2 linked regions of the Homo sapiens genome follow. The protein of the gene in region 2 interacts with the protein of the main gene of each other region in a pairwise test. Each region holds a gene or a part of one and is shown on either strand. Other genes may lie near its edges.

The links. Proteins that work in one complex are often made in the same cells at the same time.
Region 1: the proteins of C18orf54 (region 2) and GLE1 interact in binary tests that used the Homo sapiens proteins (3 or more experiments, as listed by UniProt).

Annotation. Positions count from the first base shown.
Region 1 is NC_000009.12:128,528,144-128,533,370, reverse strand, and holds part of GLE1 (mRNA export factor GLE1), read right to left. Parts: intron 4,761-5,227; exon of another isoform or gene 4,371-4,760; intron 707-4,370; coding exon of another isoform or gene 680-706; intron 1-679. UniProt on the Homo sapiens protein: Required for the export of mRNAs containing poly(A) tails from the nucleus into the cytoplasm. May be involved in the terminal step of the mRNA transport through the nuclear pore complex (NPC).
Region 2 is NC_000018.10:54,374,113-54,379,339, reverse strand, and holds part of C18orf54 (lung adenoma susceptibility protein 2), read right to left. Parts: intron 5,127-5,227; coding exon 5,056-5,126; intron 1,167-5,055; coding exon 1,094-1,166; 3' UTR 1-1,093. UniProt on the Homo sapiens protein: Might play a role in cell proliferation.

The DNA of each region.
Region 1 (5,227 bases), on a different chromosome or scaffold from region 2:
GCAACCTCCGTCTCCCGAGTTGAAGCAATTCTCTGCCTCAGCCTCCTGAGTAGCTGGGATCACAGACGCCCGCCACCACACTGGGCTAAGTTTTGTATTTTTTTTTTTTTGTAGAGATGGGATTTCACCATGTTGGCCAGGCTGGTCTCTAACTGCTGACCTCAAGTGATCCGCCCGCTTTGGCCTCCCAAAGTGCTGGGATTACAGGCGTGAGCCACCATGCCCAGCCTGTTTCATCATTGTAATTACAAAGCATCTACAAAAACCCAGCTGTGCTGCCCTACAGAAATGAAGGGATAAACAGTATCCCTTACTGTACACATAAAATGAAGGGATAAACAGTATAGAAAGAGGTGTTACATTTTGTTACAGACCCCATGGACTGTGGTTGGTATCTCTAGAGGAGTTAGTCACATCTCTAGGAAAAACCTTCTAAAGGATCTAACCAGCTCATGATGATATGCCCCCTTCTCAGGACTTGCCTTCTTCCGTCCTCAGAGACACAGAAGTGGATTCGTAACAGCTATATTTGTACCAAAGATTTTGTGTGCTCCACCCCCACACTAGCTACAGTTAGATTAGAGGCAGTCAAGCTGAGCCAGTCAGTCAACTAAGAGTCACTTCCTTGAGGTAGCTGGCCCTGTGTCACATACACTCACAAGCAGTGGGGGCTGCGTACCTGCCATGAAGACCAAAGAACGGCAATCTATAAAATAAGAATGGAGATGTAGAGAGGACAGATGAGATGAGAGAGGAAAAAAGAACTAAAGTTTCTAGCTCCTGAGACCTCACCTCATTCCTGCCACTGGGTTCTGTAGGATATTTCTTTATCTTTCCAATAAATGCTTTTTTTTTTTTGCTTAAGCAGATCTGGGCCAGCACTTTGGGAGGCCAAGGCAGGCAGATCACTTGTGGTCAGGAGTTCGAGACCAGCCTGACCAACATGGTGATACCTCGTCTCTACTAAAAATGCAAAAATTAGCCAGGTGTGGTGGCGGGTGCCTGTAATCCCAGCTACTCGGGGAGGCTGAGGCAGGAGAATCGTTTGAACCCAGGAAGCGCAGGTTACAGTGAGCCGAGATTGTGCCACTGCACTCCAGCCTGGGTGACAAAGCAAGACTCCATCTCCTCCCTAAAAAAAAAAAAAAAAAAAAAAAAAAAGCAAAGCAGATCTGAATTACTTTCCATTACCTGAAGTCCTGAAGTCAATGTTTTAATTAATACAGCATCTCCAGTTGAGAAATACCCTGTCAAGTTCCTAATCACTTCAAGAAATGTCACAAAAGTTTCAGAAATATCCTGTCATTCAGTTCTCTTATCAAAAAAAAAAAAAGCCAACCATGTGGACCCCACTGGCTGAATGCCCCATCTAGCATCTAGCCTCTCTCCATACCTCTCTAGGTAGGAGGAAAGTTAGTTAGCTTCCAACCCTAGACTGACGTGGCCTCCCCATGCCACAGCAACATCATGTCCTTATTTAAGATTTCTTCTAATTCTAACCACTCATGGACATCCATCTTTTTTTTTTTTTTTTTTTTTGAGCTGGAGTCTCACTCTGTCACCCAGGCTAGAGTGCAGTGGTTCGATGTCACCTCACTGCAACCTCTGCCTTCCGGGTTCAAGTGATTCTTCCACCTCAGCCTCCCAAGTAGCTGGGACTACAGGTGTGTGCCACCACGCCCGGCTAATTTTTGTATTTTTAGTAGACACGGGGTTTCACCATGTTGGCCAGCCTGATCTCAAACTCCTGACCTCAAGTGATCTGTCTGCCTCATCCTCTCAAAATGCTGGGATTACAGGTGTGAGCCACCACACCCGGCGACATCCACTTTTTTTTTTTTTTTTGAGATGAAGTCTCACTCTGTCACCCAGGCTGGAGTACAATGGCACGATCTTGGCTTACTGCAACCTCCGCTCCTGGGTTGAAGTGATTTTCCTGCCTCAGCCTCCCGAGTAGCTGGGATTACAGGCGCCTGCCACCACATCTGGCTAATATTTGTATTTTAGTAGAGATGGGGTTTCACCACATTGGCCAGGCTGGTCTTGAACTCCTGACCTCCTATGATTCACCCACCTCAGCCGCCTAAAGTGCTGGGACTACAAGTGTGAGCCACTGGGCCCAGCTGACATCCACCTTTTTTTTTTTTTTTTTTTTTGAGATGGAGTTTTGCTCTTTTTGCCCAGACTGGAGTGCAATGGCGTGATCTCAGATCACCGCAACTTCTGCCTCCTGGGTTCAAGAGATCCTCCTGCCTCAGCCTCCTGAGTAGCTGGGATTACAGGCATGCACCACCATGCCCAGCTAATTTTGTATTTTTAGTAGACACAGGGTTTCTCCATATTGGTCAGGCTGATCTCGAACTCCTGACCTTGTGATCCACCCGCCTCAGCCTCCCAAAGTGCTGGGATTACAGGATTACAGGCGTGAGCCACTGTGCCCGGCCCACCTTTTTTTTTTTTTTGAGACGGAATCTCGCTCTTTCACCCAGGACGGAGTGCAGTGGTGCTATCTCGGCGCACTGCAAGCTCCGCCTCCCGGGTTCATGCCATTTTCCTGCCTCAGCCTCCGGAGTAGCTAGGACTACAGGTGCCTGCCACCACGCCCAGCTAATTTTTTGTATTTTTAGTAGAGACAGGGTTTCACCGTGTTAGCCAGGATGGTCTCGATCTCCTGACCTGGTGACCCGCCAGGCTCGGCCTCCCAAAGTGCTGGGATTACAGGCGTGAACCACCGCGCCCGGCCCACCTTTTTAAAAAAGAGAAGAATTAGGTGATCCTTCCCTCCTATTCATTAAACGCTTACTGAGCACTAACTAGAGCATGTTCTGTGTCTGGCTGGACTACAAGATCTTAAAGGACTTAAAGTCTTGATGGAGACAAAGGGAGAGTCAGGAAATGTGTAGAAAAATTAAAAAAGGCAAAGATATAGACTAATTCGATGTGGTGAGTGAAAGAGAGGCAGCAGTCATAAAGATGACTCCCAGGTTTCCAGCTAAGATTACTGAGTAGATAATGGTGCTACTGATTACTCAAGAGAAAACAGCAGACAAAGAGGGCTAAGGAAGATGATGGGTTTGGATTTGAACACATTAAACTTGAGGCAGCTAAGAGACATATAGGCAGAGATGTCCCTCAGGTAGCTGAAGCTGGAGAATCTGAAGCTCAGAAGAAAGGAATAAACCAGAGGTAGGTTTGGGAGTCATCAGCATTCAGGTAATGTTTGAAGCCCTGTAAGTAGAGAGAACGAAAAGAACTGCAGGATAAGAGTAGATCCCAGCCGGGCACAGTGGCTCATGCCTGTAATCCCAGCACTTTGGGAGGCCGAGGTGGGCAGATCATGAGGTCAGAAGATCGAGACCATCCTGGCTAACACGTTGAAATCCTGGCTAACACGTTGAAACCTGGTCTCTACTAAAAATACAAAAAATTAGCCGGGCGTGGTGGCAGGCGCCTGCAGTCCCAGCTACTCGGGAGGCTGAGGCAGGAGAATGGCGTGAACCCGGGAGGTGGAGCTTGCACTGAGCCGATATAGTGCCACTGCACTCCAGCCTGGGCGAAAGAGCGAGACTCTCAAAAAAAAAAAAGAGTAGATCCCTAGGAATCACCTACAATTAGAGTGGGGTAGAAGACTAAGAAACCCACAAAGGGGAGAGAGAGAGAGGGAGAGAGGGAGAGAGAGAGAGGAAAGGGTAGTGAGGGAGGGAGGAGAAGAACCTGGAAAGTAATGGCACCATGGAGGCCAAAGGAGTAGAGTTGCACAGAGAAAGCAGCAACAGTGCCGAACAGAAACCTCAGGAAGATCAGCAAACACTTAGAAGACATAGGATCAAGGGAGACTCATGTTAGGATGTGAGGGGCTCACATATATTTACAGGCTGAGAGAGAGGAGCCTATAAAAAGGAGTAATCACAGAAAACAGGAAAGGCAATAAACGATGAGGCAGTCTGACAGGAGACAGGAAGGAAAGGGAACAAGGGCAGAGGTGGAAGGGTAAGCCCAGCAGCAAGGACGCCTCATCCAGTGACACAGGAGACTAAGAGGTAAATGTCACTGTGCAGTGGTGGAGGGGCTCTGAGGAGCTCACACTGGATGTCTCCATTTTCCTGATGAAGGAGGTACTGACCCTGTCTGCAGTCAACAGAGGGGAACTGGGAACGGCCATCGAGGTGTGGAGTGGCTGTCCAGTCAACCTCTCTTGCTTTGCTGTTGCTATCAAAGGACACAGCACTTTAAATTCCAAAAAGTGATATGTTATTTATTTATTTATACCTTGCCCTGTTCCAGAAAGAATTTCAGGCAGCAAAGTCATATGTAAGTTTTGCTGGACTGCCTATCAAGGGCAGGAACTGAAATTTTCCTATGCTTTCCAGGCAATGAGAAGTGAGTCGGGGAACGGAACCCACGATGCGTCAGAGGAGTGTTCCAGTTGCACACACACTCCCCAGCCACCTGGCAGCTCAGTCTATAATCTGGAGGCTTCCACATCTACAGCTCCATACAAATGAACCTCTGGTTCTAAAGAAGTTTCTTCCTTGTCTGGTTCTCACTTTCTAAACCTCAGTCTCTGGAGAGAAAAGGAGTCCTGGAGGATGAACAAGGCGAGCTTGGAGTAATTTGGAAAAGCTAATGTTGTAGGACAGAAGCAAAGCCTGCAAGTCACAGCCTAGGTTCCCTGAGTGATGTTTTCAGCAGTAAACTGCAACTTCAAAGCTAAGAGCCATCCTAATAATTTGCCATAAAAGGTAGCTTGTTAAAAATGAGTCAAAAAGGCCGGGTGCAGTGACTCACGCCTGTAATCCCAGCGCTTTGGGAAGCTGAGGCGGGCGGATCACAAGGTCAGGAGGTCGAGACCATCCTGGTTAACACGGTGAAACCCCGTGTCTACTAAAAATACAAAAAATTAGCTGGGCGTGGTGGCGGGCAGCTGTAGTCCCAGCTACTTGGGAGGCTGAGGCAGGAGAATGGCGTGAACCCGGGAGGCAGAGCTTGCAGTGAGCCGAGATTGCGCCACTGCACTCCAGTCTGGGTGACAGAGCAAGACTACATCTCAAAAAAAAAAAAAAAGGGGGCTGGGCACAGTGGCTCACGCCTGTAATCCCAGCCCTTTGGGAGGCCGAGGCAGGTGGATCACCAGGTCAGGAGATTAAGAACATCCTGGCTAACACAGTGAAACCCCGTCTCTACTAAAAATACAAAAAATTAGCCGGGTATGGTGGTGGGCGCCTGT
Region 2 (5,227 bases):
ACCTGTAGTAGTTATACATACACACAGTACTCTTTAATTTTGTCAGGCAGTAATGTGCTGTATTAGTTATGTTTTATGACTTAATTCTCAGTTGTGTTAGTAAAGATGCTTACTACTTATAAGAAGTATTAATAATAAGTGCTTGGTAAAAATTATAGAGCTTTGTTCAGTTCTAGCTAGAGACAAACTTAAGACTACAGATGGTGTTAAAGAAAGCACAACTCTTACAAAATAGCTCTAAAATAGAGTTGCTTTCTGATTTTCCATATTCATTTTAAGTTTTAGTTATCAAATTTGATAAAGCAATTGGCCATTGAGTCATAGTTTTCACTAGTTTGAGCCAACCCCAAAATTAAAATCTGGGAAACAATCTAATATCAAAATATTAAATTCTTAAATATCTCTCCAAAAAAAGGTTTGGAAACTGTCAAGCACTACCAAGATTATCTTACACAGAATCAAAGTACTAATTAAATGAGGAGGTTCTCTTGAATGTCACAACACAACATTCCTTTTAACACAGTATCACCCCACTATTAATGCAATTTTCAAATACAATGTATCTTAAATATTAAATTTATGAAAATTTCAAAGTAACAGACTTCCTTATAGATGAGATACACAATAACAATTTTGATATTCCTTTAAGCTGTTTAAAAGTGATGCTAACTATATCTTTAAAAAAGTCTATTTAACGTAAAAGATTTTGGATAAAAACCAGTAAGTTTCTTAATGATCCTGAACCAGGTAATAAAATGTTGAGGATGCTGAAGAAGGTTAAATCCAGGTAAGCTTCAAGAACAGAAGTCATCCATCTTTAAATATTAGACATTTGCTGGCCAGAAGGCGAAAGTAAGACTTCAGGATATATTGTGGGTCCTTGCAGTTCACATTCTAGTATGTTGGCACAAAATAAAGATAGGTCCCAAAACCTATGGGTATTTTCAAGTTTAGTGTTTTAGAAATATATAATCCTTGAACCAACCACAAAATAATGTATGGCTTATATTTACTTTGTCAGTTTAAGTAATAGAAAAAATGCCTATTTGTTCTGTGGTGACTATTCATTGTGGTGACAGTTTCATTTTCCTCTTCACATTTTCGGTGACCGTTCTCCATTCGTATCATCAACCAGGTCTCTCAGGCGAGATAAATGGTGCAAAGCCCTTCATTAAAAAGTATAAAACACATTATAAACCAGTTATTAAGAACTGAATAGCCAATGCAGACAGCAAAAAAATAAATAAAGTTGACTATTAACTTCAAAATTGGTATGAGAAGTAAATTTATATAAACTTTGAGACTTATTCCTTATAAAACCTTGAGATCTGAATAATTGAGGGTTAAAATAATTTATCTAAAGTTCTATAAACATTTACTTTAAAAATTATATTTTTTGACATTAACTTTTTTTAAGATAGTCTGCCAAGTGCCCTAACAAGAAACAATAGGTATCAGTTGTATCACACTTAACAAGAACACTTTTTTCAAGTAATTTTCACTACAGCTCTGTGAAATGACACCTTTGCTTTTGGTATCCTGTGTATATTAGTTAAGAAGTAAAATACAGAAATTATTTTTAACATTTACATTCAAGATAGCTATTTTTTAAATAGCATTTAAGGATTAGTTACAGATCTGAACAAAACTCATTTTTATTGATCATAGGGGAAGCTGCCAACTACTCCAATAAGTCTATATAATGTGTTGTTATACCAACAACCTAGATTTTTCTCTGAAATAATGCCAAGATTGTATTGCAGGTCTCAGTGGAGAAAACTCAATCATTCCTCAAACCAGGAAAAGAGGCCCTTAACTTTCCAAGCCTTCTCTAATTTATATTTTTCCAGTTTTTCTCTCCCCTATATTTCAGTTCCTGGAGGACCACTCAGAAAACATCAATTAGTCATATTTCAGATCTTTAATAAATAAGAAGGATATTAAGGAAAAACAGAGTGACAATATAGTAATTAAGATGTGCAGGAAGGGCCGGAAGCAGTGGCTCACGCCTGTAATCCATGCACTTTGGGAGACTGGGATGGGCATATCACCTGATGATATGACCACCTGAGGTCAGGAGTTCGAGACCAGCCCGGCCAACATGGTGAAACCCCATCTTTATTAAAAATACAACAGAAAATTAGCCAGGCGTGGTGACTGGCATCTGTCATCCCAGCTACTCAGGAGGCTGAGGCAGGAGAATCGCTTGCCAGGAGGTGGAGACTGCAGTGACCCATGATCGCGCCACTGCACTCCAGCCTCCAGCCTGGGCAACAAAAGCGAAACTCTATCTCAAAAAAACAAAATTAAATTTAAAAAAAAAACATAAGCTGTGTAATAACCTCCAATGTTAGTAATTTCCATTTATGGTGAGCAGAAAGGTAATGACTACAACACTCTATTCTATAGTCTCTAACACACAGTAGTTGTTCAATAAATGTATAATAAACTGCATCTTCCACTTTACCCAGGACAAGGAGATGGAAGGAAACTAGTAGCATTATTTACTGCATGTATATCTATTTCCCTGTACTATACACTTCTTGGATACTTTTACTCAAATGTAATAAGAAGACTCTCAATTCTCTCACCTTTTTTGGCAACTTCAGTTAATTTCTGAGATTCCCACCTTCATTGACTAAGTGACAATAATTCACCCAAAGTTACTAACCAATCAGAGGTAAAATAACTAAAATTTTAAAATATTCAGCTGGGCGTGGTGGCCAGTACTGTAATCCAGCACTTTGGGAGGCCGAGGTGGGTGGATCACCTGAGGTCAGGAGTTCAAGACCAGCCTGGCCAACATGGCAAAACCCCGTCTCTACTAAAAATACAAAAATTAGCCAGGCATGGTGGCACGTGCCTGTAATCCCAGCACTTTGGAAGGCCGAGGCAGGTGGATCACCTGAGGTCAGGAGTTTGAGACAAGCCTGGCCAACATGGCGAAACCCCATCTCTACTAAAAATACAAAAATTAGCCGGGCATGGTGGCATGCACCTGTAATCCCAGCTCCAATGAGTCTTCCTAGAGAACACATATTTCTAATTGAAGAATATAAGAAAACTGAGTATTTAAGGGACTAGACAAGGCCAGACTACTAGCTTACAGTTCCCTATGGCTAATGAAATATATCTTAAAACTGGATAGCCATCCAAATTATTAAAAACAAAAACTGTTATTTGAGGAATGTAAAGAGCCATAATAGGATTTTACCTTAGGAAAGGCCAATAAAGCCTACAAAGTATAATCAGTAACTTTTGAAATATTTTGGAAATATTTTGTAAATTTTGAAATACATTTGAAATATTTGAAGTATGAAAAGATGACCATATACCTAACCAGAATATTTTGCCGCCTGGAAAAAGGAATTCTGAGATGTAATTAAATTTAAATTGTCCTTAAAACAGTTAATCTACAGACTGAAAATAACTTTTGTAAGTCTAAGCTTACTTCATTACAGTACAAACGTCTTACTGATAATACTTTAGAAATGTAAAGACAAATTAAGACTGCTCCAGTTAATACAACAGAATTAATAACTAAAGGCCATCTAACAAAACATAAAACTTACTCTCTCTAAAAATGAAACTCCATATACAGGTAAGACTATTGATTGCTTATAGTAGAAAAAAAGTTACTATTAAAAAAATTCTAGCAAATGGTAAAAGCACTTATAGATCAGTATCGATTTTTGTGGTGATTAAATGACTTACAATCCACTGTTAGTTTTCACCAGGAAAAACATCTAGGATATGTACATTAACTCAGAAAACACATATAGGTCTGTGACAAGTGCAGTATAATGCTTTAAAGAGCAATGGAAAACTTATGGTCATTCACCTCAAATTTTAAAGCAGAATGAAGTCTTCATACTAGATGATCAACTGAGGCCCTGTTCTTAGTCTCAATGAATAATTCATCACTATCATTAGTGAGAGTAGTGTTAAAAATACAGACTTTCAAATCACACTACCTGATCTGAATCCCGCTTCTTTTACTAGCTATGGCAAGTTACTTTACTACTCCATGCCTATTCTCCGATCTGTATTATGAAAATAATAATAGTACTTACTTCATAAGGTTGTGAAGATCACATGAATTATATTCAATAGCACTTAGAATACTGAAATTTGGTAAACATTCAATGTTAGCTATTACTATCATTATTCACTGAATTCTATTAGGTATGAAACATTATACCCCAGTACTATGGCAAGCTACAAACAAAGGTGCATTATTTATACCCTAAAGATAATAAATTAAGTAGAGAGAAAAAAGTAATCATACATGATACATTTTAACTATGAAAACTATATACACATTTGTGACAATTAGATTCGTAAGTTTACATGTCTAGTGTTTTATTTTCCACCAGTTCCTTAGATCACAGAAGCCTAAGCAAATTCTCAAAGTACAAAAGGTAGCCAAGTGAAATGGTGTGACTAGAGTAGAAACTTTTAATCTCAGTATTTCCTAAGTTCAGTATTCCATCTTCTGAGGACACTTCATAGTCACACAACAAACTCCAAAATAAATACCCTTCTCTTCTGTCAATATCATGACTATAGAAACAACTTGTATTTTTCTCCATTTTATTATTTAAGACACTGTAACTAAGAAAATTAGACCTATCTTTATATCCAGGTCATTATATCTACTTTAGATTTCTGTAATGATGTTCCAAATCACGATCCATTTATTATTAAATTTATTCTAGAGAGAATATATGAAAACACATTTCATACAAGTTACTGTTATAGGATACTCACAAAAATACTATCATAAATTGTTGCTATTACTACTCAAAAATGAGTCATATCCATTATATTTTAGAGGTCTAAGGCTATCTCATTAGGTCCTTAGAACACTTTGAATAGGAAAAAGCACAAGTTTAAAAGAAAACAATGTTTTTTAGTGTAAACAGTGTGCTCCAAGAAGCTTAAATATGCCTAGTAGTGCTACTCTTAAAACTACTTACTTCTACCCTGTAACTTTACATATGTCAAAGAAATGGCTAAGATGGATTTGTATCCATATTAGTAAAGAATACTTACTTCTGAAGTGACCTAGTAATAGGAATCATACTTTCCTTCAACTGTAATTTAGAGAAATCATCTTCTGAAACCTATTATTAAAAACACCAAATATAACAAAATATTAAAATTATATAACTACAAAATTAAATGGTATTGAAAATGTGATTAAAACATTAAAAAATATTTTCTA